4 separate regions of the Homo sapiens genome follow, and all the other regions are reported to be linked to region 2. The links are microRNA targets in miRTarBase. Many come from high-throughput screens and were not tested one by one. Region 2 holds a microRNA gene; each other region holds the end of a gene's coding sequence.
The links. Region 2 holds the annotated microRNA hsa-miR-2113 (AUUUGUGCUUGGCUCUGUCAC, at 4,768-4,788, shown strand). A microRNA usually pairs through its seed, bases 2 to 8, with sites in the 3' UTR of a target mRNA and lowers its output. Matches are read on the target gene's strand: a 7mer-m8 pairs with bases 2 to 8, a 7mer-A1 pairs with bases 2 to 7 and ends in A, and an 8mer does both.

Region 1: the mRNA of CD248 is a reported target of hsa-miR-2113. The part of its 3' UTR that is shown has no 7-base or 8-base seed match.
Region 3: miRTarBase lists FOXN2 as a target of hsa-miR-2113. Seed matches in the 3' UTR shown: 7mer-m8 at 3,184-3,190.
Region 4: miRTarBase lists FHL2 as a target of hsa-miR-2113. The part of its 3' UTR that is shown has no 7-base or 8-base seed match.

What each region holds. Positions count from the first base shown.
Region 1 is chr11:66,309,564-66,317,512 of GRCh38, forward strand. CD248 (CD248 molecule) reads right to left here and starts at 7,481. Exons shown (of 1, transcript NM_020404.3): 1 at 4,931-7,481. The coding sequence starts at 7,464. The coding sequence ends at 5,191. RefSeq lists silencers at 2,638-2,887, 7,410-7,679 and an enhancer at 6,230-6,926.
Region 2 is chr6:98,019,819-98,027,767 of GRCh38, forward strand. It overlaps MIR2113 (microRNA 2113), which reads left to right and starts at 4,713; the gene lies at 4,713-4,803.
Region 3 is chr2:48,373,701-48,381,649 of GRCh38, reverse strand. It overlaps FOXN2 (forkhead box N2), which reads right to left. Exons shown (of 7, transcript NM_002158.4): 7 at 2,355-6,730. The coding sequence ends at 6,207. Among named protein-coding and RNA genes, the nearest start is that of FOXN2, 63 kb to the right of the region's middle.
Region 4 is chr2:105,353,616-105,361,530 of GRCh38, forward strand. It overlaps FHL2 (four and a half LIM domains 2), which reads right to left. Exons shown (of 7, transcript NM_001318895.3): 7 at 7,211-7,819. The coding sequence ends at 7,668. It also overlaps a transcript of C2orf49 not described here. Among named protein-coding and RNA genes, the nearest start is that of C2orf49, 20 kb to the left of the region's middle.

The sequences.
Region 1 (7,949 bases), not on the chromosome of region 2:
CAAGACAAGTGAAGGAGAGTGTTCGAAGCCTCTACCTCAGGGATGTGGTGGGCTTCAGACGTCAGTTTCTGCTGATTCAGCTCTCCCCGTGATCAGTTTCTGGACTCTGTCTTCAGGGATCCCCAGAGCCAGCTAAAGCAGATGGTGTCTTTGATAGCAGCTTCCTGCACCATCCTGAAGATACTCATAGGCTTCAAGCAGGAAACCTTAGTTTTCCTCATATAGAATCCTTCCTCCTCTATAGTATCTCTGCTTTTCAAATGAGGAGGCAAACATAGAGCAATAAAGGAATGTCCCTGAGCTCCCCCAGCCATTAAGCAGTGGAGCTGGCATGCAAACAAGGCTGATGCAGAGTGCTAGCTCTTACCACTGTGCTAGTTGGCCTCCCAGAAAAATCACTGGACTCACTGAAACCAGGCTAACACATGAGCCAACAGATGCCCCAAGGCCGCACCTCGCCTGGGCACATGGTCCAGATCCCACGATCCCAGCAAATGCTTTATTTACCAGCATCACCTGCCAAAGCCACAGACGACAAACTCTCCTTGGGGGAAGAAGGCTTCAATCTCTCTGGTCAATCTCAGTGCCGTCAGCCTCTCTGAGAGTCTGCGTCTTGCAGCCTCACCCTTAAAAGTGAGTTTCCCAGGGTGTGGGCATTTTCTTTTCTTTTCTTTTTTTAAACAGAGTTTCACTCGTCACCCAGGCTGGAGTGCAGCTCACTGCAACCTCCACCTTCTGGGTTCAAGCGATTCTCCTGCCTCAGCCTCCTGAGTAGCTGGGATTACAGGTACCCTCACCATGCCTGGCTAATTTTTGTATTTTTAGTAGAGACATGGTTTCGCCATGTTGGCCAGGCTGGCCTCGAACTCCTGACCTTAAGTCATTCCCCACGCCTCAGCCTCCCGAAGTGCTGGGATTACAGGCGTGAGTCACCGCGTCTGGCCAGGTGTGGGCATTTTCTGATTAGAGACTTGGCTATCACATATGGACTGGCTTTGCTGTAGGGGGTAAAGATCACAGGATCTGCCTGGGTTCAAACCCCCACTTACTAGTTGGTCAACTAGGGCAGATGGCTTAATGCAGTTAGGCAAGTGCCTTCAGCTTCCTACTCTGTAAATTGTGGTAAGAACGGCACTTACTTCTTGGAGGTTGTTATGAATCTTACATGGATTAAGCCAAGTAAAGCCCTTAAAAAAGGACCGGGCATGTAAGAAGTGCTTCAAGGCTGGGCATGGTGGCTCATGCCTGTAATCCCAGCACTTCGGGAGGCTGAGGTGGGTGGATCACCTGAGGCGAAGAGTTCGAAACCAGCCTGACCAACATAGTGAAACCCCGTCTGTATTAAAAATACAAAAATTAGCCGGGCGTGGTTGTGGGTGCCTGTAATCCCAGCTACTTGGGAGGCTGCGGCAGGAGAATCGCTTGAACCTGGGAGGCGGAGGTTGCAGTGAGCCGAGATGGCGCTATTGCACTCCAGCCTGAGCAACAAGAGAGAAACTCCGTCTCGAAAAAACAAAAACAAAAACAAAAAACAAAAACAAAAACAAAACAGAAGTGCTTCAAGCATTCACTATTATTATCGTCAGTATTTAGCGCTAAACCCTATTTACATTTGTAATGGCTAGTGCACGAGCATTGGAACCTGGTCTGGAAAGTATCCCTCTCCCCAGGCCTGATTTGCCCGGAGGTGGGTAAGGGCAAGGTTGGCAGCTAAGGCAGGAAGCAAAGGGCCCAACTGGAGCTCAGTGGTGTCAACTCCCTTCCTCCTCAAGGGTTGCTCCCTGTCTGTCCCACTAATGTTTGAAAAATATTTTACTGGGTTCCTAGCCCTGAACTTCAGCGTCTCCTGCCCTCCAGGCTGTTATTTTCAGAGGTAGAGATGAGAGCTGAGATAGGGTCTCCCTTGAGACACTGTCCCTAAAAACTACGACCTTCAGCTCCTAATTGAGGGCTTCCCCGCCCAAACCCACCCCTTCGCAACACAGCCCCCAGGGAAGGTGTCTAGCCTTTGGAGCACTAGGTGGGGGCGGGGGAAACCTGGTCCTAGGAATTCTAGGCCGCCAGATGAGAGGCGATGCTTTCGCCCTCCAGGCGAAAGGATTTGTCGGGGAGAGACAGCAAGAGTTCGACCAGCCAGCCACTTTAGAGATTGTCAGGGGCGCTCAGCTCATAGGGTGGCTCGAGGGCCAGTGCGAAGCTCCCTTAGGGACGAATTTCCACATACGACGAAAGGCATCTGCGAAAGGATGGGCTGTCCCGTGGGGGGAGTCGGCAGATATTTAAGTAACACTAACATTTAACGAATTAAGCAGCTATTTCTATTTACTGAGCAATTAGTACGCTTTGAGAGAGAGGCCCTACCGAGGCCTCGCGGTGGCTGTAAGTCCGTGGGGCCGAGGCCAGGTGGCGCCAAAGGCCCATCGACGCCATCTGCCCGGCTGTCCGGGCCCAGTCTCCGGGCTCGCCCAGAGAACCCGAAATCTGGACAAACGGAAACCGTAGGTGGAGGAAGAAGAGGGCTCCAGGGCCAGGTTCAAGGGCATCGTGGTGAGAGATGAGGGGTTCGGAGGACTGGTGGATCTGGGCATATCGCGAAGGTGGTAAGGGACCCAGGGGTGGAGTGGGCGGTGCTTGCGCCAAGAGGGTGAGCCTGAGTGTGGGCGGGGCGTGCGATAAGAGGCTCGCTCGGTAGCGCTCTTCGCAGAGCCGTATTTGTGCGCTACGCCGCAGCCAGGGCGCTCTGGGTGGGCGGGACTCCAGGGCCCCCAGGGGCGTGGCTTGCATCTTTCGTGGGCGGCCCCGGGGGCGGGGCTCCGTGTAGGTGAACCGCTACCTCCGCTCGATGTGTGAGGTGTGACAGTCCTACGAGGGCGCAGTTCTTCCACTTTTGTGAGCTTGAGAGGGGGCGGAGCTTGTAGCTGGGGACGGAGCCTGAAGAGGAGGTTGAGGGGAACTTCACACGTTTCCCTGGAGGGCGGAGTTTACATCATCCCCCAACAGAGTTAAGACCTCTGAGGGATTCCCTGCAGTGTCCAGGGCTCTGTGAGGCGAAGCTTGCAGTTGTGTTGGGCGGGGCCTGTAGCGCCGCGTGAAGAGAATGTGTAAACTCGGGGCGAAGTTCATACCTCCTAGAAGCCGAGACTAATAGTTCCGCCAATCTGCGCGCGCCGAGCGGAGGAGGTGGGGCTTGTAGGTTGTGGGCGGGGGACTGGGCGGGGCCAAGAGGGCAGGGGGCGGGCACAATCGCTGCTGGAATCTTTGAGTTGGCAGGGGCGGGGCTTGTGGCTTTGTGGGCGGGGCCTCTGGAGAGCTCCCGGGGGCTCTCTTCTGTTCTGCAGCGAGTAGGCGTGGCTCGTAGCTCCCAGGTCCGGGCTGATACCGCTGGAGTATGCAGTTCGCCGCCGCGCCCGAATGAGGCGGGGCCTGCGAGTAAGTGGGCTGAGCCCGGGCTGGGCGCAGGCCGGGGCTCTGCCCTGGGAGGCCGTCTGTTTAGGCCCGCACGCAGCTCCGCATCTGGTGCTCATTACCAGATGACAAAGAGCCGGCTCTGGGCCCCCTTCCCCACTCCCATCCCCCGCCTCCGACTGCAGTGTATTTAACTGTTTCCTGCCCTCGAGGCGCTCTAGATCCCTACCCGAGGTCACGGAGGGGACTCCAGACCATCCCGTCTCTGCAGGCCTTGTCGCTCCCCAGGCTTCCTCACCTCCTTCCCAGACTCAGCCGTCTGGGCCGCCTCGCAACCCTCATTGGCATCCAGCAAACCTGCCCGACGGCGTCTCCGAGGTTAAAGCTGTGCAGGATCTGGCGGGGACGTCTGGTTTGAGTTAGGGGAACGTGAGAGCGGGGACCGGGGGCGGTGCGTAGCGTTCCCTCCGCCCCCTCCGCGACCCCCTGGTTCATCCCCAGCTCCGGCCCCTCCTTTCCTGGTTCCCTGGGGCCCAGCTCAGCCTTCCAGCTCAGGTCCAGGCCCGAAGGGGGCGCTGGGCCACTCCTCCTCGCCTGCCCGGGTGGTCGTGGCGGCTCTGCCCCGTCCTAATTAGAGGCCCCCAAGAGGCTGTAACTGAAAAATTACAGAGGCGGTGGGAACTGGCGCCTCCCCTCCCCAGGTCTCACCCCCGCCCCCCAAGGCAGTGAGCACGAAATGAGGGAGGTCACTCCCACCAGGCTGTGATCTTTGACCAGGCCCTCCAGTTCCTGGGACACTTCAGTCCTGAGCAGCCGGAGCCCTCGCTCAAGCTCAGGTCTGCTGAGCTCTGTCTGTCCCCCACCACCCCCAGCCAACATGGACAAGAGCAACGTGCGGCCCTGGCAAAAGGAGGCCTTGCTCCTGCGGCTGTCCAAGCAGTTAGCATGGGATCTCTCCCAGGTTCCCGGCCTTTCCCATCCCAGCCTCCTCCCCGGAGCAAGCGGAGGAATGCCTCCAAGAGCACCCACAAACCAGGGGTTGGCAGTCCCCTTGAGTTACCCTGAGCCCCAGCCCCCAACTTCCGCGAAGCTTACAGGGATGGGAAGGGAAGTGTCTGAAGAAAGGAGCAACTCACCCACTAGACCCCTCCTTCACTCCTCTGAATCACCAGCCCCAGAGCCTACTTTGACCCCTAAACCCCAGTCCGGTTCAGCAGATGCCCTAATTCCACAACCGTCCCCCAGATTCAGCCCCACCTTCTTGGAGCTTTGGTAAAATAAGGAATAAATATGAAATTCTCCCCATGCCAAACCTCCCACTGCTGGGCTCAACTGTGTGACCTTGGGCAAGGCTCTGCCCTCTCTGGGCTCCTGCTTCCCTGAGAATCTCTGAGGCATACCCTCCCTTAAAGGGATCTTACCTTATCTCTTTGAGGACTCAGACAAACTGAAGGAAGATCCCCTCCTTTTTGCTGAGTCCTCCCAGAACCTCCCTTAAGCACCAGTGGGGGTCAGAAGCCTTGGGTAAGGTTGACACCCCATTTATTGGAGAAGACCCCAGCACCCGCCCCCTGAGGTCTTAAGGGCTTTGGTGTATCCTTGGTCACGAGCGCTGGGCCAGGAAGCAGAGTTCCTGAGAGCCAAGTCTAGTGGTTGAGAGAGGACCCTGGCTGGGCCTGGGGAGCAGGAAGCCATCTGTCCAGCTGGGCAGCCCCCATGGGTCCCTGGTGCAGCCCCGGCCATGTGTCCAGCGCCCCATACTCCATGAGGGGGGTCTGCACCCCATCACACGCTGGTTCTGCAGGTCTGCACCCCTGTGAGGCTGCCCCTGGGGGGCATGGGTTCTGTTGGGCTCTTGCTCCCAGCATGGATGACCCAGCGATAGCAGTCAGTGATGCGCTTGTTGGGTGCATGGGGGCCACAGCGGGTGCAGTACACGATGCCCAGTGCAAGCAGGACCACCAAAAAGACACACGTTGGCACCAGGAGTGCCACCAGCAGCCACCGGTCATCCCTCTGGCTGTGCTCGGCAAGACCAGCCTCCCCCAGGGCTGTTGGGGCTGCTGTGGGAGCTGGTGAGGGCAGCCACAGGGCCAACTTGGGACTGGGGCCATCTTCCCTTGGGATTTGGGGGGCTTTGGAATGGGGATGTGTAGGGCTGATGGGTGAGGTCTGGTTAGTGGGGCTCTGAGAGGGCAGGAGGGTGGGGAGGGCTGCGGGCTGGGTGGCAGCAGGCACAGAGATTTGATGGGCAGGAGACACAGGGGACCTGGAGGTGGTGGTCAGAGAGGGCTGGGCAGTTGGGATAATGGGAAGCTGGGTGGCCTGGGTTCTGAGGACAAGGGCATCTGGGGCTTGAGGGGGTAGCTGGGCACCGAGGGTGGTGACCAGAGGGGCATGGTTAGGTGGGATTCCAGGCAAATGAGTGGTGGTCTGGGTGCCAGCGACCCGGGTGTCTGGAAACATGGGGGACTGGTGGGCAGGGAAGAGCTCCGGATATTTGGTTGAGATCATAGGGGGCTGGTGGGCAGGAGGCTGTGCTGAATGAGAGACAGAGAGAATACCGGGTTGGTAGGCAGAAGGCAGATCTGGATAGTTGGCTGCGATCACGGGGATCTGGTGGTCACGGGACAAAGCTGGGTGTGTGGCAGGGATCACAGGAGGCTGGTGGGCAGAAGGCAGTGTGGGATGCGTGGCAGAGACCACCACAGGCCGGGTGACGGAGAGCACTGAGGAGTGGTAGGGGACCCTGGGGGCACTGAGCGGGGGTGGCCAGGTGGGCTCCGGGTAGGGTATCTGTGGCTCTCTGTCCTCTGGGAAGCTCGGTCTATAGGCCAGGGCAAAGTCAGGCGGCTGCGTAGGCTCCATCCACAGGATCCCAGGCATCTCCGTCCAGCCACCGTTGAAGGCCTTCCAGGCCTCGTCTTCATCTTCCTCATCCTCCCCGTCATCCAGCAACTCATCTCCGAGGTCCTGGGAAGCCTGGGCACCCATGGCCCCTGCAGGGCTGCAGCTGATGCCATCAGCCTCCAGCTCATGTCCCTCGCTACAATAACACTCGAAGCCACCAACGTAGTTGACACACATCTGCTGGCACACACCGGCAATCTGGCACTCATCTGTGTCCACACAGCGGTGCGGATCATCCTCCGCTGGCCGGAAACCCAGGCGACAGTGGCAGCTGTAGCCTTGTGGCCCACCGGGCTCACACTGCTGCTCGCACGGAGCCTGGGCACAGGGGTCCTCGCAACTGCGCCCGTCTGCTGCCAGCCGGAAGCCCTCAGTGCAGCGGCAGGACACGTGACCATCCACCTCCTCCACACATTCGTGTTCGCAGCCCCCGTTGTCAGGGCTGCAGCCAGTCCCCAGGCACAGGGGCCCAGCCCGTGACCAGCCCACACCTCCCTCAGGCTGCTTCACGCAGAGCAGAGAGGCTCCCCTGCCAGCCTGGCACTGCACAGCGGCCACAGAGCCGAAGGGCAGCCACTCAAACTCTGTGGAGACCAGGTGGAAGGGCGTGGTATACACGGCTGGGCCGGCCTGGCCCGCCTCATCTTGCAGCGCCGGGCAGGCGCCCTCGAAGCCAAACTGGCACAGGTAGCCGTCGACAGCCAGCGTGCACGAGCCCTCCAGCCAGCGGTGCTCGCCACTTGCCTCCAGGGCCACACAGCGCTGGGCCGGGCAGGGGCCTCCAGAGGCTGGCTGGGCCCAGTTGGTGAAAGCCGTGTCCTGGTCCCCTGTGGTCCACGTGAAGCCGCGCAGTGGGCGCTGCAGCTGGCATTGCCGGGCCTGCCGCTGCAGCCCGATCCACAGCAGCCGGCTGGCTGGGCCCGCACCCACCAGGCTGTCCACACGCTGGGCCTCCTCGGGGGTCCGAGGAGTGGCCAGGTCGCCCCCCAGCTCGCGGCAGGCCCGCCAGGCCTCCAGGAAGGTGCGGCGCCGTGGGAAGAGAGCGTAGCAGCTGCTGGGGCCGCAGGCGGCACGGGGCTCAGCAGCCCAGGGGTCCTGGCCCAGTGTGGGCCCTGCGGCCGCCCAGGCCAGCAACAGGCGCAGCAGCATCGCGATGCCCCCGGACTGGTCCGGCCCCGGGCTGGCGGCAGCTCTTGACAGGGGGAGGGCCTGGGGCCTCCTGCGGGCGGGCCGGGGGCGGGCCTGGGGCCGGGCTCAGGCCTTGTAAGGAGTGGGCTGGGGCGGCTGCCAGCTCCCTGCTCCCTCTTCCCCGGGGGCCGCTAGAGCAGGAAGCAGTGGGGTGGGGGGCTCTAAGGTTGGGGGCGGAGGAGGGGAGAAGGCGCAGTTGACGGCTGCCCCAGGCCCCATGGGGCTGAGAGTCAGGGGGTGGGAAAAGCCTGCCTGCCGAGCTCTGTGACCCTCAAGTTGGGGCTCGGGGCTGTGGGGTGAGGTCGCTTCCCAGAGACTCAGAGACCCAAATCTGGACACAGCAGCCCCATCACACCCGGGAGCAGTCTCAGCCCAGCTGCTCGCCATGCACGGGAACACCCTCATGCCCACTCCTTTCTTGCCCCACAGACGCGCGCATGCGCCTC
Region 2 (7,949 bases):
TCTTGTTGAGCCAGATCTGTTCTAATTATCTTTGTATTTCCAAAACATATCAGTGCAATTCCTCAGTCGTGCTGAAAAATAATTATCATATTTGATGGCAAGCAACTACTTGAAATTTATTGTTTCTTCACTGTTTGTCTTAGTAGATACTTCTCCAAATACAGTATAGAATTACAATGAATTGAATTCCAAGGATCTCGGACAGCTGAATTAAATTTTGGAGTGTGTCACTTTTCAAAATGATGAGATGAATGAATTCTTATAATCCTGGGTTGTCTATTGAGACTTGCATTCTGTGTGCTAATCTTGGGGTTCACATTTTGGGATCTGAAGTTGTCTATGTGAGGATAGTCTATAGTGGCAGTGGGATAAACTCAATTAGCAGGTAATTTTTAATAGCTATATGCTCTGGTATAATTCTTGAATTATAGAGATGGCTTCACATTTTGCATTGAGAGCAATTGGAAAAATAGTTAATGGCTCTGACATCAAGAAAATCTGAGTTTTATATGACTGTTCCTTAATTGAGGGCAAAGGACGCAAGGGCTAAATCTCTGCCTGGAAGTGAAGCTCAAAAATGCCTTTGTTTATCAGGCTGTGCTTCAACCTCCCAGACTCACCGAAATGGAGGGAGGGGCAAGGGTATTTACAGCAATTGGAAGGGCCTTATTCACCCCCTGAATTCACACTCAGCTAAACTTAGAAATGCAATTGGTTTATTTTGTATAAATAAGCAAGAATGCTGGAAGAAACTAAATATCTTCATAAAACAAAACATTATGATACCAGAAACCCTAAGGAATAGCACTAATGCTTTTAAATGAAGGTTTTATTTGTCTCTGAGCTGCAAAAAGGAGTCACTAATGAGATGTCATTTAAATTCTAACACCTGTTTAATGGCAGTTTTTCTCTATCCCCAAAGAGTAACTGTTTATGAATGTTTGCAGTTTTCCAAGTGTATCTACAAGAATTGTTTTTTCATAAACAGTGTGATGCCTTTTTCCTCATAGGCTTCATTCACCGTTACAACATATGATGAAAATTGTTGGTTGTGGCATTTTTGTATTACATGGGTTTCAAAGATAGCGTTCATTTCAAACACTGAAACTTAAAATTTTATAATTTACATAGTACATATTTATGAGAAACTTTATGTTTTACAGATGTTTGAGTGTATACTGGTATAAGAAAAATAAAATTTCTATATATATTGTTTACTAAATTTAAGTAAGATTGAAAAGACATTGGTGAAAATGTGTTTGCTCTTATATTCCCTCTTATGAAAAGAAGTATATTCATAAACAAACATACATGCACACAGATTTCTAAGATTTGCAGAAAAGAAATGCTTGTTGACTTTTTTCTCAGACAAGTAAATAACTGAAAAGGCAACAAATCAGATTGTACCATTCCTATTGTGATTTTATGTTTTTCTTATATAAACAATTTCTTATTTGTGAAAAGAATCCACAACAACTCTGTTACCACTTTTCTCAAAAACGATTGTAGTGATTAACAGACACTATAAGGATGAATATATAAAAATTACTTACCATTGGAAATATTTTCCTTAGGATGTGTCCCATTTGGTATTTATAAGATTTTATCCAGCTTGCTTTCATGATTAGCATACTTTAATAAAAATAAGTATACTTCAGTGAAATAAATAACCTATAAATGTATTTAAGTCAATTACCTCTGTCTTGAGAAATTCATGTGTAATTAATTTCTTTGAGATAGCAGAGACCTTAGGCCATGGATTTTACCAAAATGATTATATGAAATCTCCAAAATGCTGGCATCTAGGAAAGCTGCAGGGAACTTTTAAGAATGTACATCTTTGACCTAATAAGAGTCATACTTTTGCTCTGTTGGCATTCTGGATGTGTGACAAAGCAATCCTTGTTTGTGTTAGGAAAGCAGGAACTCGTTTTGATGGAAGGTGAGACTGGGCCTGTGTATGAAATATTCTATAGAACTCTTTAGGATTTAAGCTGAGCACACCAGGCTTACTGAAAAAGAGAATGGCTAAGCCATAAAATGCTCAAAGTGTGGACTTGAACAGTTCTATAAAACCTAAATGTTCTGCACATTAAAGGAGAAAAGGAGAAAATTGTTGCAGATGTGATTGGATTTCCCATTATGCTAAAAACTACTCTAAATTTCTTCCTCATGATCATTATTCCTTAGATTCCTTAGTACCAAATTATTTCCTCTCCTCTCCTCTCAAGATTCCCCCATGAGATTCTTGCCAATTTAAGGTGCTCTTTTGAATGAACATAAAGACTGGATGTTTTTCAGTTTTTAAAAATGCTTTTCTTATTTTTCTGTCTCTCTCCCTCCCTCCCCATCTCATATATGTAAAAACATACATACCTAAATACACATACATACACACACATATAAAACATTAAAGAATTGAAGCATATCAATTTGCTCCTGGTTTATACAATTTTTATTTATAGGTGGGATCTCAGTGCTTAATCCGTGTGTTCTAATTACCCACTGGATTTGTTCACGATCGGTTGACATACACCTTGCAGTAAGCCTAGAGAAATAAGCATATTCTTTTTTCTGTGCAGTTCTTGTCTTGACTTATGAAAGCCAAATATCCATTCTGTATGGGGAGATGAATCAGCAATCCATATAATATCTATTCATCATACATATTTCACAAGGAGGATATTGTGGTGACTGCAGAATTCTACAAAAATAATATGGAAATCCGGAACTTGATGTGGAGTGTCAGAGAGCCTCTTACTATTATTTACCTTATCAGCTTTTGCTTTCTGAAATCAATGGAAGGGCATCAAGTTCAGCTAATCCATATTTCTGAGTATGAAATTGAATTTATAGTCTGTAGTATGTTGACTACCGCTCGCATTTAAGGCATAATTGATTTTTATTGAAAAGCCAGCAGGCACATCAAAAATTTCCACAAACCACAAGGATGTTAAATTTTACCCTGTTTAGATAATAGTGTGGCTTTATTTATCCTTTAAAATGAAGGTTTTATATTTATATCAGCAAATGCTATGGAAGTGTGACTGATACCTTACGAAACCATCAATCCATGGTTCTGTAAAACTGTATGCACAGAAATAAGCAACTTTATATTTCTAAGGTAAATGTCTATGGTTGGTTTGTTTTAAGGATAAATGGATAAATGGAATAATAAATCTAGCATCATATCATGTCATGTGCAAAGTTATTTTTCCGTTGAAACAACAGCTTTCACCATTATTTCTTTTCTTTCCCATATTCCTTCTGCATCTCCTTTTTTCCTCTGCTTTACAAATTATATTTTTTTGTGCATGTCTGGATAAATGGTTTATGTGTATAGAATGTAATTCCTAAGAAAAAGTCTATTCTTCTATTTTAAAGTTAAGTAGTCAAACATATCATGTGTGATACTCCATTAAGTAAGTTTCACTCAAATGTTCCTAATACATGTGCTAAGTTCATTTATTTTTAACTAAAAGTTATGATGAGAAGACTCTTTTGAGTGTTGCTGCCACAAATATGTAAATTCAATGTCAGTTGCATGATGGATTTTTTAAAGTGAAGCTCTGCCTCACTTTAGTAAAGGGAAAACGAAATAAAAACAAAAAGGTACAGGTACCATTATTTGTTATAATTCTCCTTCTTTGTAATCTTATCACAGTGATTCTCACGGAGTGGGAGGAGTATCACACCCTAAAGAAAACCTTGGAAACTTGCAGGGATGTATTAGGTTTTTATAAAAATTGCATGGTGTGGAGCCAGGGCCACCACTGACTCCTGGGTGGAGTCAAGGGATGATAGACATTTGCAGCTTGCTTGCGGGAGGCTCTCATTGAAAAACTCTCCTATGCTCACAGAACTTTTGAGTATCCTATCAGACATTCATGTGGTTGAAAAACCTATGTAATATTATCCACACTTTGATTTTATTTTCATTTACATGGAATTAGAAGATTTTTTACATTGTTTAATATGTAATGAACTTTTCAGAAATCAAACTCTCTCATAAATTAATTGGAAATTGTTATTTCGAAGTTTACCAATTGTTGTTCATTGATGGCAACTCTATGGTGTTTGCTGCATCAATACAACAATCTTACTTTAGTTTGCATTAGTGGCTGATGCCTTTGCAAATTTATCATGATTCTGTGCACATGTATCAGCACTTGACTTCATGTCTTCATTATGTGGCAGTGCTAGAATATTTACATTTCAAAATATATACTATTTTATTAATATTACAAAGTTGTTTCTTTTTATTTCTTTTATTTTATAGTTGGGGCATTGTATTGACTTTTTCTATGATATTCTTGAAGTGGTTATAATATCTATGAATTTCATTTTGTTATAGTAAACGGGTTACAAAGTATTTGTTATAAAAAGGAGGAACTGGATCAGATAAAGTTGAGAACAATTGCCTCACGGCATCAAGACATGAATGCATTAGTTGAAAATTCTTCAGTGATAAATCCAGAGATTATTTTAATAGAACAATTATTTCCAATGAGGAAAATAGTATCTCAGGGATTTTTAAATATGCAGTGATAAGCCCTTAGTGCCTACTTTCTTATGTGTATGGATGAAGAGTGTTCAAAACAATTTGTCATATGCACAGAAATACAAAAGATGAAACCTAAAGAGATTATACATTAGTCTCTTAAGAGTAAAACTGACGGAGAGAAGCAGTATACCTTTCACAGAGGCAGATATTTTCAAAGCAATGTGTGACAGGTACAGGGACAAATCCCGTTAATAAGTAAGAGGATTTGTGCTTGGCTCTGTCACATGCCACTTTGAAAACCTACCCTCAAACTGTCTATAAATTTTCATGCCCATCTTTTTCTCCTTACTCTTTCCAGAGCATCTGATTGTTTTTGTTCACCAGTGTTTTTTTTCTCCTGCTTTATCTCATGGCATCCTTTAATAATTTTTAAGAGTTTTGTATATGTACTATGATTTTGTGGCTATGTTATTGTTAACAAAATATTTGCTGCATCCATTCATTTTCACTGGCCATCAACTGCTTCATTATAGGAGATTTGTTTACCTCTTATGACTTCCGAATATGTAAAAAAAAAATCACAGAAATTGAGGAGAGAAGTAACATTTATTATGTTGGTTAGTTTTTCCTTTTAATATGTAGTTAGGTTTTTTTAAGGAAAAAGAATATACACTATCTGGAAAGAAAAAGAGGTTTTTCTTTTTAGTTGTGAATTTTTGAAAACCCAATTATTAAGCCTAGAGGTCTTTAACTTTTATAAAATGGACTCAAAACAAATTTCAATCCTAAAGACTGATGGGCCACCTCTGTTTCTTATTTTGGTGCCTCATCACATGTGAGTTTGCTGATATTAGAAGAGGGACACAAGTATTTGGTAGAACATCTTCTGGTCTCTAAGTTGGTCCTGGTTTGATGCAGCACTCTTTTTCACCCTGCCAAAGATGATTTGCTCCCTGGAAGTAAATATTTATTAACTTGCTGTCAAAGTGAATATGGAAATTTTGCTAGTAGGAATTATATTCTTACTTTAAATTTCTATATTATTTTAAGAGGATGCATTAATGAAAAAACATAGTCCATGAAATGTGTTCTAATGTAGGCAGTTCCAAATAAAAATCATTTCTCTATGGAATTTCTGTTTTTCTCTCTCAAGAACACTAATGGTGCCTACAACCTATTGAATAGGAAGTGTTTTCCAGAGGACTAGCAATATACATCTGACATCATTTTCTTTGCGCATCTAAGTATAGACCTAGGCTGTCCTTCCACAGAATCCAACAGCTGGATAAAAAGTAAAAAACAAAGCAGATCTGCCAGATGGTTTATCTACATTAAATCTAACATCTGTATATTTTTTAAACATTTAGATGATTGGCTTATATTACATCTGCATACTTTTTGGCATTTCTTTGATCATAAATGTGTGTGTGTGTGTGTGTGTGTGTGTGTGTGTGTGTGTGTGTATGTTAAAGAGAAAAGATGCTACTGAGTCAGATAAAACTAACCAGAAAACAGAGCAATGGCCTTTGAATTTCTGTATATTTCTCTGAATGTCCATATCCAAACTCAAGGACCAGATAGCTCAAGTTCAAATTACAGAAATTTTTTGAAAGTTAGAGACAAACTGTGAGAGACAGGATAGTTTCTTATGGTATTCAGCTCCGTAATGTCATTGAATACATAGACTTGACTCTCTGGAAGGAATTCAGAGACCACCTGGCTAGAATCAATTAATTTAGACTTTAGTCATTTTACCTGTGTTAGCAAAGAAAAAAGTCAAAATAATAAATAATATGTTTTTGAAATTCAAGTGTTTTTTTTTGTTTGTTTTTTTGTTTTTGGTTTTTTTTTCCCTTAGAGATGGGTTTAAACAGATGTATGTAGAGTTGAGCCCTCAACATAAAATGTCACTTATCTCTTTGGAACCAAAATCTGAGAATGCCACACAAGCAAGTGCATACTGTAGTGATTGTTCATTTAATGAGTAACAAAAATTTACATTTGTAAGGGCTTTTGAAATTTTAAAGCTCCTTCGTAGTCATGGTCTCATTATCCCCACTTGATACTAAAAACCTTTCTGGAACCCAGATCTTCTCATTCTTTTTTTTGATTTGGGTTTTGGCTTTTGGAATTTTTTGTTTTGTTTTGTTTTTTGGAGACAGTCTTGCTGTTTCGCCCAGGCTGGAGTGCCATGGTGCGATCATGGCTCACTGCGGCCTCAACCTCATGAGCTCAATCAGTCCTTCCACCTCAGACTCTCAAGAGGCTGGGACAACAGGTGTGTGCCACCACACCTGGCTAATTTTTGTATTTTTTGTAGAGGTGGGCTTTCACCCTGTTGCCAGTCTCAAACTCCTGGGCTCAAGCAATCCACCGACTTTGGCCTCCCAAAGTGCTGGGATCATAGGTGTGAGCCACCACGCCCAACCCTCATTCTTTATTTGATGCAATTCCATTATTCCATGAGCAGAGAAGAAAATGAGAAAGAAAGGGACATTTGTAGAGCAAATCCAGTGTTATATGTGTTATATCAGGGGATTTGACATCTATCACTTTATTTAATTCTTACCACTACTTCTGGAATAGAAAATATAGAAACCAAATTTGCTTTACCTCTGACAAATTGGGTTTGAATTCTGCCTCTGCCATACATAGTGGCTAGCTGTGCATCTTTAGTTAAGTGATTTGAATAATTTCCGAGCTTCAGTTTCCTTACATATAAAATGGAAATAATATCAACCCCATATGCTTGTCATAAAATTATATGAGATTATATGCTTAGTATAAGTTAATTTAGCAATACAAAGCACACTGTTGGTGCTCAACACTCAACAAATGTTTGACATTTTACAGATGAAGAAATAGAGGCTTGAAGAGTTAATGGTGGTCATAGAAGTAGGATGTCCCTGAAGGAGCGATGAAAGCTATTCCTATCTTCAAGCCTCATACAACACTTTCTTTATCATTCTAATATTGCTTATTTTTAGAAACAATAATTCACACAATTCGTTTGATTTTATAAAATTAACTTGATACATTGCCCTTTGTGAGTTATATACTAATTTCTCATATCATAATTTTTCTTCCTTAAAACATTGAATTGGTGAGAATACAACAATGGAAATATTGGTGGTATCTTGTAGTTCCAATGAAAATCTGAAAGTACAAAATTAGACCAAACCATATATTTCCATTGCTTTTACTATGTTTCATTAGCAACAATACCAGTTTTGGAAGGTGGTGTGGTCTGGTTGTCACTCTGTTGCTGACTGTCTGTGTGACTGTGGACTATATGATTTAACTGTACTAATATTTACTGTGAATCTACTTTGTGCAGTAGGATCCTGGGATAAACCTAACACAGACCCTATCCTTAAGGAGTTTCCTGTCTCACTGAGAATAACAGACAAGTCATTAAATACACAACATAGTCTGATAAGCTGAC
Region 3 (7,949 bases), not on the chromosome of region 2:
TATTTTGGTACAGCTGTACAACGTGTTTGTGTTTTAAGCTGTGTTATTACAAAAGAGTCAAAAAGTTAAAAAAAATTAAAGTTTATAAAGTTACAGTAAGCTAATGTTTATTGTTGAAGAAAAAATTTTAAAATGAATTTAGTATAGCCTAAGAGTACAGTGTTTAAAAAGTCTACAGTAGTGTACAGTAATGTCCTAGGCCTTCACATTCACTCACCACTCACACTCACTGACTCACCCAGAGCAACTTCCAGTCCTGCAAGCTCCATTCATGGTAAGTGCCCTATACAGGTGTAGCATTTTTTATCTTTTATACTGTGTTTTTACTGTACCTTTTCTATGTTTAGATATGGTTAAGATACACAAATACCATTGCATTACCACTGTCTACAGTATTTGGGACAGTAACATGTTGCATAGATTTGTAGCCTGAGCTATAGGCTATCTACTATATAGTCTAGTTGTGTCGTAGGCCATACCATCTAAGTTTGTGTAAGTACACCCTATGATGTTCCCACAGTAAGAAAACAGCCTGATACTTTTCTCAGAAGGTATTCCTGTTGCTAAGCGATACAAGATCGTAGTTGGAATCACAGAAATGAGCCTTCTAAGGCTCAGTAAGTGAACCTTTCAACTAAGTCAAAGATTGGCTTCTTTCACTTAGTAATATGTGTTTAAATTTCCATCATAGCTTGATATCTCATTTTTTTGTTTTTCTTATTTGTGGTAAAATATATATAACATTTACTATTTTTGTGTGTACAGTTCAATAGTGTTAAGTACATTCACACTGTTGTGAAAACAATCTCTAGAACTCTTTCATTTTGCAAAACACAAATTCCATGCCCATTAAACAACTTCTCATTCCCCTCTTCTTCCAGCCCCTGGCAAACATCTTTCTACTTTCTGTCTCTATCAGTTTGACTACTGTAAGTACCATACAGTATCCTTCTTTTTCTGACTGGCTTATTTCACTCAGAATAACGTCCTCAAGTTTCATCCATGTTGTAGCTTGCGTCAAAATTCCCTTCCCTTTTGAGGTGAAATAATAATCCATTGTCTGCATGTGCCATATTTTATTCATTCATCTATCGATGAACATTTGTGAACCTTCCACCTTTTGGCTATTGTGAATAATGCTGCTCTAAACATGGGTAGACAAACACCTCTTTGAGAACCTGCTTTCAATTCTTTTGGGTATGTGCCCAGAAGTAAATCTGCTGGTCTATTTTTAATTTCTTGAGGAACTTCCATACTGCTTTTCAGTGACTGCACTATTTTGAATTCCATACTGCTTTCCATAGTGGCTGCACAAGTGTTCCAATCCTTGCCAACACTCGTCACTTAGTTTTGGTGGCGTTTTTAACCTTTTAATAGTAGCCATTCTAATGGATACGAGGTGGTATCTCATTGTGATTTTTATTTGCATTTCCCTAGTAATTAGTGATGTCGAGGATATTTTCATGTTCTTTTTGGCCATTTGTATATCTTCTTTGGGATGTCGATAGCTTTTAAAAAAAATTGCTGTATAATAGTCTGCTGTCTGGATGTACCAGTTTATACATTTGCCTACTGACAGACATCTTATTTGCTTCCAAGTTTTGGCAATTATGAACAACGCTGCTGTAACAATTGTGTGCAGGTTTTTGTTTAGACATGTTTTCAACTCATTTGGGTAAATATCAATGAGTGTGATCTGTTTATCTTTTCTGGTGAGGTGTCCGTTCAGGTATTTAGCCCATTTTTAGATTGGGTTTTCTTATTGTTGCATTTTAATTCACCGAAGTTGTTGAACTTATTGGCATAAAGCTCTTGATGACTTTTTTTTTTTTTTTTTTTTTTTTTTTTTTTTTTGAGATGCAGTCTCACTCCGTTGTGTAGGCTGGAGTGCAGTGGTGGGATCTCAGGTCACTGCAACCTCCGCCTCCTGGGTTCAAGCATTTCTCATCCCTCAGCCTCCTGGGTAGATGGGATTACAGGCGTTCGCCACTATACCTGGCTAATTTTCGTATTTTTAGTAGAGACGGGGTTTCATTATGTTGGCCAGGCTCGTTTCATATTCTACTCCATTTTTCCCAGTTATATTTCAAAATATTTCAGATACATGTAAATTAATAGGAAAAGAAGTTTAACTTTAGGAAGATAGTAATTTAATTAATGTCATTTTAGCTTTCAGTAATTAACATCTAAAAACCATAAAAAATACTTTTAAAAAAATTGAAATTAAACTGCATTTTTCATTTCCTTGACTCCAATTTGAATGGAAAGTGTGTGTAGAAGTATAGCCATCACATCTGCCCTACCATCCTTCTCCTGTCCCACCCTATCCTACAAAAGATCAGAGAAAGCACAAAAAAAGTTATAAAACAAAATTTATTATGCAATACTTTCTCATAATGAATTGCATCTCTTTGGTAAAAATAAACTTTATAAACATTTTAATAATCAGAGATTAGATACAAAAACTAAGTATTTGTAAGTTGTTTTTAATATGAGCAAAGATTGGCAACTGAGAAGTGGTTCACTTGTGACTGGTCATCTACTGGCAGTTATAACTCAAACCGGGACAATTTTTATGCTACATCAGAAAAGAGGATAAGGAAACAGTTTGATAACAAATTTGTTGAATCAGAAAGCATTCTTACACTTTCATTTAAAAATAAATAATAGTTACAATCAATTGGCAATTATACATTTTTATACACTATATGATGGCAACATAATACTTTAAAATTAAGCACTTAGTTTAATAAGAAATGTACAACGATTTAAAAAATAAGTTTTGACAATGGCACTGGCAGTTAGATGCAAAGAATATGCTTTAAGAAAAAAAATGGCAGGTATAACATTAAAATACTCGAATTCACCTTTCAATAAATATTTTTACTACATCATTAACATACTGAAGTAAACTTGGTTTAAATCAAAGCTTACACATTTCAAACTAAAAAAAAAAAAAAATACAAAAAAACACCTGTAAGATATATGTAAACCAGAAAGCCTCACAGTTTCTTAGATAAATGCTGTGATCTTCACAAAAGGGTGTTAAGTTGTTGTAGTATTTAAGACAATGGTCTTTACAGCTTTGTGAAGTATTCACATCTGTTGCTTAAATTGCTGGCAAAGGCCTCCTGGTCTACCAAGACATATACATTCCCTCCTTAACACATTCTCTAGTTTGACTTTGTGCTAAAGTATATTTAACTGAACATCTAGTATGAGCCCTTTACATAATGCCTCAGAAAGTAGCAAAAAGAAAAAAATATATATATACTAAACTTTACTATATACAAAGGAATCCAAGTTAAAAGAAGTCATGCTGGCTATGAGGACAGGAAAGGCTTGAAGGTGGAAAAAGGGAGGTGATCCACCTTTTCCATGAATTCAGGTAATCTGTTTTCTTTCTCTGAATTTGGAAAAGTAAAATAATAACTGATTTAGTAATATATTGCACAAAAAAACTTCAAAAATATATATTCAAGAAACAGTGATTCTGTTTGGGATGTGAAGATGAACAATTGTGTTGAATCAAAGCTTTTTACTAGGGATCTATTATAAACTGGAATCAGCTGCAACAAAACATATTCTTTTGACGTAAGGCAAATTATATGTTAGCTTATATCACAGTTTTTAGGATATGTTGGAAAACATGTAACCTCCTTGGAGTTTCTAAGTTGACTTTATTACAGGAAAATTTGTATATTATAGGGAATACAATTTCCAGGCCATAGGACTTGGAATGACTCTACTTAATTGTGTGGTTATTAGTCATGTTTCTCAAAACACCTGAGGAATGAGAGCATACTCTCAGTGGAAGTAGTAAATGGAGGACCATAATTTAAAAGGTTCTTCCCTTGAAAATAACTGACTTGGTATGTTAGCAAGTGGAAGGTGATGCATTAAATTATGTTTAAGAAACTGTAAAATATTGTGTAACCTCTCCCTGTTAGCTTTCAGTGCACAAGTGTTTATCATCCTTGCTAGTGATGAATATAACTTAAACATTTAAATTCGTGGGAAGAGTGAATAAAAAGGAAGAGAAAAATCAAAAGATGTAAAGAATTACTGTTACATACATCAAGACAAAATAACTTTGAAGATCCCTATTAGAGCTGGAACTAACTCTGCTTCTCTTTCCTTTCCTTATAAAGAGTAATTATCTAATGGACAAAAACCAGGTAGCACATTTGTGATACAGAATTTCAGCAGAACAAAATAAACTGGTGCCAGATCACTGAAACACTGTTCCTAAGGTCTATACAGAGGCTATGGTAAATAACTTAAAAATAGTTATTAAGATGATGTGTATAATCTATTATTTATACTGTGGTTAAAGCATTTTTGGGTTTTTGGTGTTTTATTCACTGTCTATAATAAAAGTTAACTTGGTTTAGCCATTTTCTGTAGATGTGATCGATCTAAAAAAAAAACCCAAATACCTCATCCTGCATGCTTAAGGGTTTTCATTATTAACAAATTTAAAAATTACTATATTTTGACAGCACCAATTCATTAATGTGGCTATCCAGGTTAAATTAAATTTAACATGGAAACAGAACAGAGAACATTAATACTGTTATCCCTGACTTAAAGTCTTGTCAATTGAAAAAAAAGTTTTTAAAATCATTTTTCTCATTTGACAGTTTTGCCAAAATAAAAATTAAAAGTTAAAATTTGTCTCTTAAAAAATGCTTTATAATCACAGAAACAGCTGAAAGCAAATCAACATCATGACCTTGACTGTGCATATGTGTATATGTATGTGTACATATGTATACAATCTATCAGAATAATGAAAACAAGGTCATTGTCTATGACTTAGGATGTAGCATAAGACTGAACTTTCAGAAAGTTGCTTCCACCATTGTAAAAAAAAGATACAATGAATTAGTTTAGCATCCTATTGTTTCTGAATAATCTAATCAAATTATACAAATGATACTATGAAAAACTGTCTCATATAAGCAGACTGTTCAAATAGTTAAGATACTTAGTCAAAGCACTTTTGGAGTAGTACCAGAAAATCTTTTTCTCATGGATCAATGGCACTATAGGTTGTTACACTGCCTCCTCAAAAAGGTGTATTGCATAAGATCAAATTTTATATGAATTTTGAAATTCATGAAGGTATTGTGTCTGTAAAATTGCATTAAATCTATTAAGATTTAATTTGGTATACTTATGAATTTAATTCATACAAAGCTTGGACAGAAGTTTTTTCCTAAATGACCTACTTTATGTATGATAACATGCCATCAGTACTCAAAATGTTTCATTTCACTCCATTCCGATTATAAGATTCTCATAATACAGTACACATGGCAGGCAAATGAAAGATTCTCTTATTACAAGTGTGTCAAAATGGGTGTACTCCATAACACACTTAATTGGCTATATCCTCTCACTGGATAACTTATACTCAACAAAGGCAGCTAGTGGCTAAAACTTAATGTTTGCAAAGCACTTTGGGAAAGAATAAAAGGCCCCAATAAATGCTATGCAGGATCTCTGAAGTAAAAACACTTCAAAGCTACCATTCTAATAGGAATTGGGAGTGTTCTTGGATGAAATGACACCACAAAATTGTCTTTTCTAAGTCTTAGAACTCTTTGTTGTATTCTCTACCTACGTAACCAAAAGAAACTTTCTAAACATCAGGATGTTTTTCAATTTATGTTTGTCTTTGCTCACACGACAACAAAAAAAAAATTAGAAACAAATTAAGACAAAGTAAAAAAATTTCAATCTTATGTTACCGGATTGCGTGTCAGGAGAGAAGTATATGAAAAATACATCAGCAAAATTTTTAGCTGGTTCAGTAACTATAGTTACAGATTGGAAAAGAAAATGAAAAAAATTTATCGAGTTGCCAAATCTTACATTCTGACATATTAACAGAAGAAAGGATTTTTGTCCCACAAGTTTAAGACAGAGGCTGGGGATTTTCTTATATAAAAATTTTCAAATCTTGGACACATTTATCACAAAAATTATGCTTTTAGGACTTCACATCATGTATTTCTGATCAGGCATGATCCTAACAGCAATTGTTTAATAAAAATTTTAAAAACCAAAAACCAAAAATGTTTTGAAAGAAATAAGTAATTAGTATCCCTTCCCTACCCTAAAACTAATGAAGTCCATTATGGCTTTGATATCCCTTGTAAAGAATTAAGTGAAAGAGTATTGCCACACTTTAAGTATTTCTATTTTTTCCGTTGCTTTTGATTTTGTGTCTTTGCAGTACTTATTAGGGAACCTAAACATGTACGAATTCCAGCAAGGTGGAGCAGAGATCCAGCTGCCTCTTTGAGCTCCTCATCAATTTCTTGACATGTCTGTTTTCGCATCTTTTTGCCTGACTGCCCTTTTTCAGAGATTTTTGCACAAGGCTGTGATGCATAGCCACTGTCTCCAAGAGGATCATCTTCATAATCAACGTCTGTATCTTCTTCACTGTGAAATCCTTCACTGCCATCACTTCCCACGTGACTATTCTTTGGGATAAATTCATATACCTCATCCACAGAAGACAGGGAAGACACGCTAGACCTGGATGCACAACGCTGTGCTGCCATGCTACTTGCACTGTAATTGTGATCTTCTTTTGGATCAATGCTGGTGGCTAAAGAATCACTCTCTTGTAATCGTACAGCACTGGGATGATGAAATGCATTGCCGTAACTCCTCTTTTTTTGCAATGCTGTTTTAAGAGGAAGAGGCTTCTCACCTGTGGAAAATAAAAGTTCCATCAATAGGTCAAATGTGTTTGGTTGCAAAAACAGACCAATTTTAAACTACTACATTACTCTTGAGCAACAAATGTTTTAGATTCATGATGCTTTGTAGATTTTTTATTTTTTTTTACCCAGATCACATCATTTTGCAAGCATTAATTTGAAACATTTAAAAACCATTTAACAATGTCTTGACTTTTCTATAGCATATGTAACTATTTTGAATTGCTTACAAGGAATGCCTCAATATGAATGTACCACTGTTTAGCTAATCACTTCCGTGTTAATATTTAGGCTGTTTCCAATTTTTCATTAGTATAAATCATGCTGCAATACAAATCCTTCTGGATGCCTTTTCTTGAATATATGCAAGTAATTTTTAAAAAGAGATATGAAAAAATTGCTAAGGGATATATACATTTAAAATTATAATTGGTATTCTCAAATTGCCCTCCAAAGTGGTTGTACCAATTTACTCCCAACAGTGTATGACAAAACTTACTCCCTACTTAACACCATTCTCAATTACTTAAATTTTTTATAATTTTATGGACAAAAAAGTTACCTCAATATTATTTCATTTTGTGTTTCCCGAATTTCTAGCGAAGTTACACATCTTTTCACATGTGTATTGCCCACATATATTTCCTCTTCTAAGATCCACCTAGTCATATATTTTGCTGACTTTCCGGTTGAACTGTTTTCTTATTTCTTACTTGCAGAATCCTTTTTATGTATATACTTGATACTAATCCTTTGTTATATATGGAAAAAACATGTCTCCAGCATTTTATGTCACTTTTCTTAGATATATTTTGTTGTCAGAATGCTTTTTTTTTTTTGGAGACAGAGTCTCACTCTGTCCCTCAGACTGGAGTGCAGTGCTCTCCAGCTCACTGCAGTGCTCATGGCTCACTGCAACCCCCACCTCCCAGGTTCAAGCAATTCTCCCACCTCAGCCTCCTGAGTAGCTGGGACTACAGGCATGCACCACCACATCTGGCTAATTTTTGTATTTCTTGTAGAGATGGAGTTTTGCCATGTTGCCCAGGCTGATCTGGAACTCCTGGTCTCAAGTGATCCACCTGCCTTGTTCTCCCAAAAGTGCTAGGATTACAGACGTGAGCCACCATGCCTGACCAGAATGCTAAAATTTTGATGTTTTATTAAATTTACCCATTTTTTTCCTTCATGGATTTTGCATTTTGTATC
Region 4 (7,915 bases), not on the chromosome of region 2:
TGAGTAAGCTTTATTCTTCCTGGGCTTCCACTTCCTCCTTTGCAAAGCAGATGGATTTCACTCTTATCCTTAAGACTCTTCCAGATCTTACTTCTTGGTATTTCTAGAATTAACCTTATCCTTATCCCTGAGCCTCTGTAATCTATCATTTAATAACTAGGCAGAAAATGAGAGGTACCCTCAAGTCTGAATGGGCATCACTAAAGATGATTGAGAATTGAGTATATATTTTAAGTTTCTAAAGTAATATGATTAAGTGATATGCAAGTTAATATAACTTTTATTTTGCTTTAATATAACTAGTTTTACAAAGTCTTGTCCAAAGGAGTTAGGGTTTATTTATTGTGCTGACTTAAAGACTTGAGGGCAGCCCTCTGCTTACAAATTGGATAGTGTCTAGTTGTAGCAAGTCAACAATGTTCAATACATATACCTCGGGCTTCATTTTTGTGATCACAAGGTTTTCTTTGCTAGTTTCTAAAGTTCTGCTCTATTAACACCACTGAGTTCTTTTGCAGGCATTTCTCTAAAGTTTTTCCAGAGATAAAGCTTTCACTAAGGGCAATATTGAGGGAGTAGTAACCATTGTAGTTCCAGGGCACATTGCACCACAGCAGATATATTTAATGAGTTTCTTGCCTTGTTTATGGTTCATGTAGAATGATTCCCTCATCAGTGAAACTGTTTCTTTGACTTACTTCAGTGACTAAATTTTCATTGTTCCGGTTGAGGGTAGACTAGTTCTATTAAGCATTTTATTATACCCTGGCCAGGTGTGGTGGCTCACGCCTGTAATCCCAGCACTGTGGGAGGCCGAGGTGGGCTGGTAACTTGAGGTCAGGAGTTCGAGACCAGCCTGGCCAACATGGTGAAACCCCGTCACTATTGAAAATACAAAAGGTCAGCCAGGAATGGTAGCAGGTGCCTGTAATCCCAGCTATTCGGGAGGCTGAAGCAAAAGACTCAACTGAACCCTGGAGGCAGAGGTTGCAGTGAGCCCTGATCGCACCATTGCACTCCAGCCTGGGCGACAACAGCAAAACTCCATCTCAAAAAAAAAAAATTAAAAAAGAATTTTATAATATCCTAAATATTAAATATTATCACAAAGTTTAAGTATGTAATTTATTCTACAAGGTAGTTGTGCATTTAAATTAAACCTTAAGCCAATGAAATAGATGTGATCAACGTAAATCTTAACATTGTAGAATGTGTAACAAAGTAGAGGTAACTAATACAATATTTATAATTAGGTTTTTCATTTGCTAAACAGAGAAAAATGCTTGCTGTTAAATGGAAGGAGCAATTCTGCTGGGAAAAAACATGGGTTTTTCAAACATAAAAGCACAGAAGAGCTGACAGGCTAAGAGACAGCAAGAACCCAGAGAAGCAGGCAATCTTGTTTGATGCTCTGTTGAAACTCAGCTGTAGTTTAGGTGACTGTAATGTAAGGGAGAGAGAAGTCAAATCTCTGAGTGTTCCAAGAGGGGAACCTAATAGGTATGACCTCAAAAAACACCACCACATATAAGTGTGAATTAGAAATACATCTTTCCTTTTCATGCATGGAGGGAGGGAAGAAAAAGAAGGAAAAGAAGGAAGGAAGAATAGGAAAGGGAAAGGGGACACAGTGGGGTGGAGGCAGGCAAGCCGACTCTCATACAGACTTGTAGCTAAGATTTACATCCCCAGGAAGGTGAAAGTAACTCTGGAAATGACTGGGAAGTAGTTCTAGTCTGGTGGTAGCCCATGTGTCTGGTAAAGACAATGACAATCGTCTCTGCAGGAAGACATCCTTATTCTAAGTCTCAAGAAACACCCCGGATAACTTTTTAAAGGTAGTGATTAACACAAGTCAGAGTTATCCTTGCATACAAGAAAACAGTGGACCCAGTGTGGGCTGCAACAGAAACATCAGGCAGTAGAGACTGACCCCCAAAGGTTTCACATATTGTAATAATCAAGTAAAGATCAAACAAGTTGGCTTGCTGTTTAATGAAAAAAAAGACAAGCTTTAAAGTAACTCAGAGTGTACTCAAGTGCACTCAAGTTCAAAGTGTAACATATTTTAAACTTTTAAAATTTTTACTGAGTTACAATAAAATGCTGTAAAGTTAGAAAAGTTCTAAGTTATATAGCTCAGGAGAAAAAATTTTGTGTGTGTGTGTGTGTGTGTGTGTGTGTGTGTGTGTGTGTGTGTGTATCACTACCCAGATCAAGATACACAGTACAGCACAGGTGGCAGGTTTTTCTGTAAAGGTCCAGATAGTAAAAAATTGCCAGCAAACCAATGCGTAAATGAACATACATGGCTGTGTTTGAATAAAACTTTTTTGTTAAGAAAACAGACCAGGTGTGATGACTCATGCTGGTAATCCCAGCGTTTTGGAATGCCAAGATGGGGGGAATCGCTTGAGCCCAGGAGTTTGAGACCAGCCTAGGCAACATAGTGAGACCTCATCTCTACAAAAAAAATTTTAAAAATAGACATCAGCCAGGTGTTGTGGCTCACACCTGTAATCCCAGCACTTTTGGGAGGTCGAGATGGGTGGATCACCTGAGGTCAGGAGTTCAAGACGAGCCTGGCCAACGTGGTGAAACCCTGTCTCTACTAGAAATACAAAAATGAGCTGGGCGTGGTGGCAGGCGCCTGTAATCCCAGCTACTCAGGAGGCTGAGGCAGGAGAATCACTTGAACCTAGGAGGCGGAGGTTACAGTGAGCCAGGATCATGCCACTGCACTACAGCCTGGGCGACAGAGCAAAACTCTGTCTCAAAATGACAACAACAAAACACACAGGCACACACACACAGCCAGGCATGGTGGTGCGTGCCTGTAGCCCTAGCTACTTGAGAGGCTGAGGTGGGAAGATCACTTGAGCCCAGAAGTTCAAGGTTACAGTGAGCTGTGATCATGCCACTGCACTCCAGCCTGGGAAACAGAGCGAGATCCTGTCTCAAAAAAATAAAATAGGAAAGAAAACAGGCAGTGGGCAGAATTTAGCCCAGGGACCATAGTTTACAACCCCTGATACAGAATATTCCAACATCTCATTGGTTTAGTTTTGCCTGTTGACATTTGCTTTGTGTACTTTTGTATATGTATGTTTAATTTCCCAATTTAATAAAAAGTCTTAATTATATAGCTATATTATTTTACATCTAGCCAGAGTTTTCTCATTATCTTTGGCATTCAGCATTTTGAATGTAATGTGTCTGGGTATGGTCTCTGCATTTATCTTACTTTGAGTTTATTGAGCTTCTTGAATATGTAGATTAATATTTTTCATCAAATTTGGGGCCTTTTTCAACCATTAACTCTTTTTTTCTTTTTCTTTTTTAAGAAGGTCTCACTATGTTGTACAGGCTGGAGTGCAGTGGCTGTTCACAGGTGCTGTTTTCTCACACTGCAGCCTCAAACTCCTAGACTCAAGCAATTCTCTCACCTCAGCCTCCTGAGTAGCTGGGACAACAGGCGCATGCCACTGCACCTGACTAGTCATGAACTCTGAAAAAATATTTTCTCCTGTTCTTTTTTTCTCTCTCCTAGCCTTCTAGTCCTTCCATTACACATATGTTGGTATGCTTAATGGTTTCTCACATTTCTCTGAGGCTCTTTTAATTTCTCTTCACTCTTTTTTCTGTTTTTCAGATTGTATAATTTCTGTTGTTCCGTCTTCAAGTTCACTGGTTTTCTTCTCCTAACTCAAATCTACTACTGAGCCCCTCTAGTGAATTTTTCATTTCATTTAGTATACTTTTCAACTTCAGAATTCCATTTGATTTATTAAAAATAATTTTTATCTCTTTATTGGTTTGTTTGGTGAGTAAAGTCATCTCTTGGTATCTGTGGGGGATTAATTCCAGGACCCCCTACAAATACCAAACTCCATGGATGCTCAAGTCTCATATAAAATGGCATAGAATTTGCATATAACCTATTCACATCATTCTGTATACTTTAAATAAATCTCTAGATTACTTATAATAATACCTAATACAATGCTTACACATCACTTCATTTGCATGGATTCAACATAGTACTCAGCATGTGGAAGATCCAAGTTTTGCTTTTTGGAACTGTGTCAACTTTTTTTTTTTTTTCCTAAATACTTTTGATCCACAGTTGGTTGAATCCACAGATGAGGAATCCATGGATATGGAGGAACAACTGTAATTGTTCCTTTACCTTCCTTTTTTAAATATGATTTCCTTTAGTTCTTTGAACAAACACATTTATGTGTTCAGCCAGTGTTTGGTCAGAGGTTCTGCTTAAGCACTTTGAGCTAATAAGATTTCTGCTCTTTGCTGATGGATCTGTGTATGCCTTAGAGAATGCTTTCAAGTTTGTTTCACATCTGATTGCTCCTGAGTGGATACAGCCCTGTCCATACATACTTCCCGAACCTCAAGGATAAACCAGATTCCAGGAGGGCTCTTCTTGGCTATCTCTTTCTCTGGTTTTCTGTGTTAAACTTCTGGCTGGTCTGTCATTTTGCTTTTTGCTACTAATAGCATGGAGTTACCAGCCCCTTCCTTAATGGCTCACTGGTAAGATGTCTTATTGTTTTTGACAATCCCCTTAGGCAAAGATTTCTCGTTCTCCGTACCAAATACCAGTCCCCTTGGGCATAACTGCTGGGTTACCAGTCTCAGAGCCTGGATCTCCTCTGGGGGCTGGACAGCAGCCTGCTTCTCCAGGACTGACATCCCTTCTCTGTGAGTGGGTTGATAGCCGCTGGTCTTCTCAGATTGCCCCTCCCAATGTGGAGCCTCCGCACTAAGCAGGCTAGGGTAGGGGCAATTGGAGCTCTACGATTCTCAGCCTGTCGCACCTGGGGCAAAGCCCTAGACTGGTAGCTGGAGGAAGAGAGACCCCTTAATTTTTGGCTGCATTGGTCCAGAATAGAGTTTGTCACATGAAGCTGGGGAGTGGGGATGGGATAGGATGAGGCTGTGGCTCAAATGCCACAGACTCACTGTTCTTTCTAAGACTTAGTAGTGGATTTTCCTGAATGAATGTTTATTTGTTGTATGCTTCTGGGGAAATTTTCAGAGACTTTGTGTTGTGTGGTTTATATACAAGTAATTTCCTTCAGTAGGAAGAGGGTCGGTCAGCTAAGCCCTGCAAACCACTATCTGTAAAGTCCTGTCAGTCAATGCTTTTAGCCTTGGCTGGGCTGCTTGGAGTCTGGCCTAAGTATACACGGTTCAGTTGTCAGCCAGAAATTTCTAAGTTCATGCGACGAACTTGGGGCTCTCCTTTTCAGGATTTTCTTCCTCACTTTCCAGAGGCTGTTTGTCCCGAACTCTGGCCTCTGGTTCCTCAGGCCAGTAAGACTGCAGGTTTCCTAACAGAGTTTTAGATCCCTGGCGGGGGCCTGCCATTGGATAAAAGGCCGAAACAGGAAAATCACCCAGTGTCGTTCTCTTCTTCCAAGTGTCTACTGCCCTCCAATATCTGCCTGCTTTGGATCGTGCTCCAGTGTTCTTAACAATTAAATAAATATTTTGTCCAGAATGACTGTTAATTTGGAGGAGAATTAGTCCAATTGGAGCTATTTACTAGAAGTGGAATTCCCCCTAACCATTAATTTTAGAATGGGTAATTTAAGGTTGGGAGAGTCTATGGTTTTAATGAGGAACAAGTAAGATGTTCCAAAATGAAATTTGGAGTGCTTTTACTTTTATATTATGAAGTAGAAAACAGCAAAACAACTAACAAAGGATGAAATTATTCTTTTTAAGCAAAACCTCAAGTCAACTATAAAACCAAAAGACTCATTCCAGACATTATCAAACATTCTAACAGTGACTAACACTCAGATTAAGAAACTGATTTCACATATGCTCAGCATATATCAGACTTGATTTCCACCAAATTTTTCTGTTGCTCAGCCTATCATTTTATTATATTGCATTGTCTTAGAAAACTAAGGACAAAAAGGTCACTGATGCTCCCATTCTAAAGAGAACTGTGCAATGTTCTATCCCATACATTGGCTCCGTGCTTCCCAACTGTATACTGCTATCTGAGATTATTCCACAGACTACTGCCACACTAGTAGCTCAGAATGTTATTTTTACTGTAATGACTGTGTGTCTCTCCTGCTTTACTGCCCTTTTCAGAAACACTGAAGGCTCCCAGTGTGCCCTCAGTTGCGAGGGTGTTGAGAACATAAAGATGAACAGGATGTCGTCTCTGGCCTCAAGTTGCTTATGTCCTTGTGCAATCTTTCACTTTATGGAAGTCGGTGTAAGATGTGGATCCATAACACTGGGACAGAGCCGATAAGCTCTGCCAAGAAAAATGACCTGAAAATTGGCTTCACTGTCAGTTTATGTTACTGTGTCAAATGCAGAGGATTACATTCCAAGAGAAAGAGTATGGGAAAGACAGAGAAGGTAGCTGGGTGCGGTGGCTCATGCCTATAATCCCAGCACTTTGGGGGACCGAGGCAGGTGGATCACCTGAGGTCAGGAGTTCAAGACCAGCCTAACATGGTGAAACCCCATCTCTACTAAAAATACAAAAATTAGCCGGGCATAATGGTGGGTGCCTGTAATCCCAGCTACTCAGGAGGCTGAGGGCAGGAGAATCGCTTGAACGCGGGAAGTGGAGGTTGCAGTGAGCTGAGATTGTGCCATTGCACTTTAGCCTGGGCGACAGAGCGAGACTCTGTCTCAAAAAAAAAAAAAAAAAAGGGAGAGAAGGTAGCAAGGAAGAGGTGCCTGGTGCTGACTGAAGGCTTTTTTTTTTTGAGACGGAGTCTCTTTGTCTTCCAGGCTGGAGTTCAGTGGTGCCATCTCAGCTCACTGCAAGCTCTGCCTCCCGGGTTCATGCCATTCTCCTGCCTCAGCCTCCCGAGTAGCTGGGACTACAGGCGCTCACCACCACACCCGGCTAATTTTTTGTATTTTTCGTAGAGACGGGGTTTCACCATGTTAGCCAGGATGGTCTTGATCTCCTGACCTCATGATCCACCCGCCTTGGCCTCCCAAAGTGCTGGGATTACAGGCGTGAGCCACCGTGCCCAGCCGAAGGCTTCCTTTAAAGGGTGTGATGCTGTTCCAGTTGGCAATGCCCCAGGCCATTGGAACATTGGAACTGCACTTCATACAGTGACCATGGGACCATGCAATAAAGTGTTACTTAGACTCAGTGCCTCGACCTGTAATCATGATTTCACACTCTGTGCCTGGCAAAAGATTCTGTTCTGAATAACTTTATTGCAAGTCACATAATCTTGGTTTAGACTTGACGCAACGGGAGGTTACAGAGCTGTAAATAACAACTGGTCATTACCTTATTGAGTTTAGAAAACTTTCAAGTTCGTGACATATGTTAATTGCACTTAAATAGACAGTGAGAGAAAGATTTATAAAGGCATCATTCAAAAGGATTTTTACATTTGGGTGTGCCTTACTCGATTACAAAAATTTCAAACCATCTTCCCACCTAGGGCCTAGGGCGAGTTTTCTCTTTCCCTGGGACTGAACTATCACAAAGCACTAAAGGGTTTAAGCAAACGTGAGTATCACTGAAAAGCACTAGAAGAAAGTCTCAATGTGGCTGGAAGAAACCAGAAGGCAAGATTGCCTGGGTGAGAAAGAAAACATAAAAATCTGTGTGTGAGATCACAAGCAGCAACTTCTCTGTGTTGAATTCAGATGTCTTTCCCACAGTCGGGGCACAGGATGTCGTCCCTCTCTGTGAGGAAGCCACGCCCCACCAGTGAGAGGGAGCACTTCTTACAGTTAAAGCAGTCGTTATGCCACTGCCGTTCCTCAAAGGAGATGTATTTTGTGCCACCAAGTCCTGTTAACAGAGAGAAAATAATACCGGATGAAGAAAGTTAGAATCAGGCAACTGGGACTGAAGAAGGAATTCTGGTTTGATCCATTTCAAAGTTTG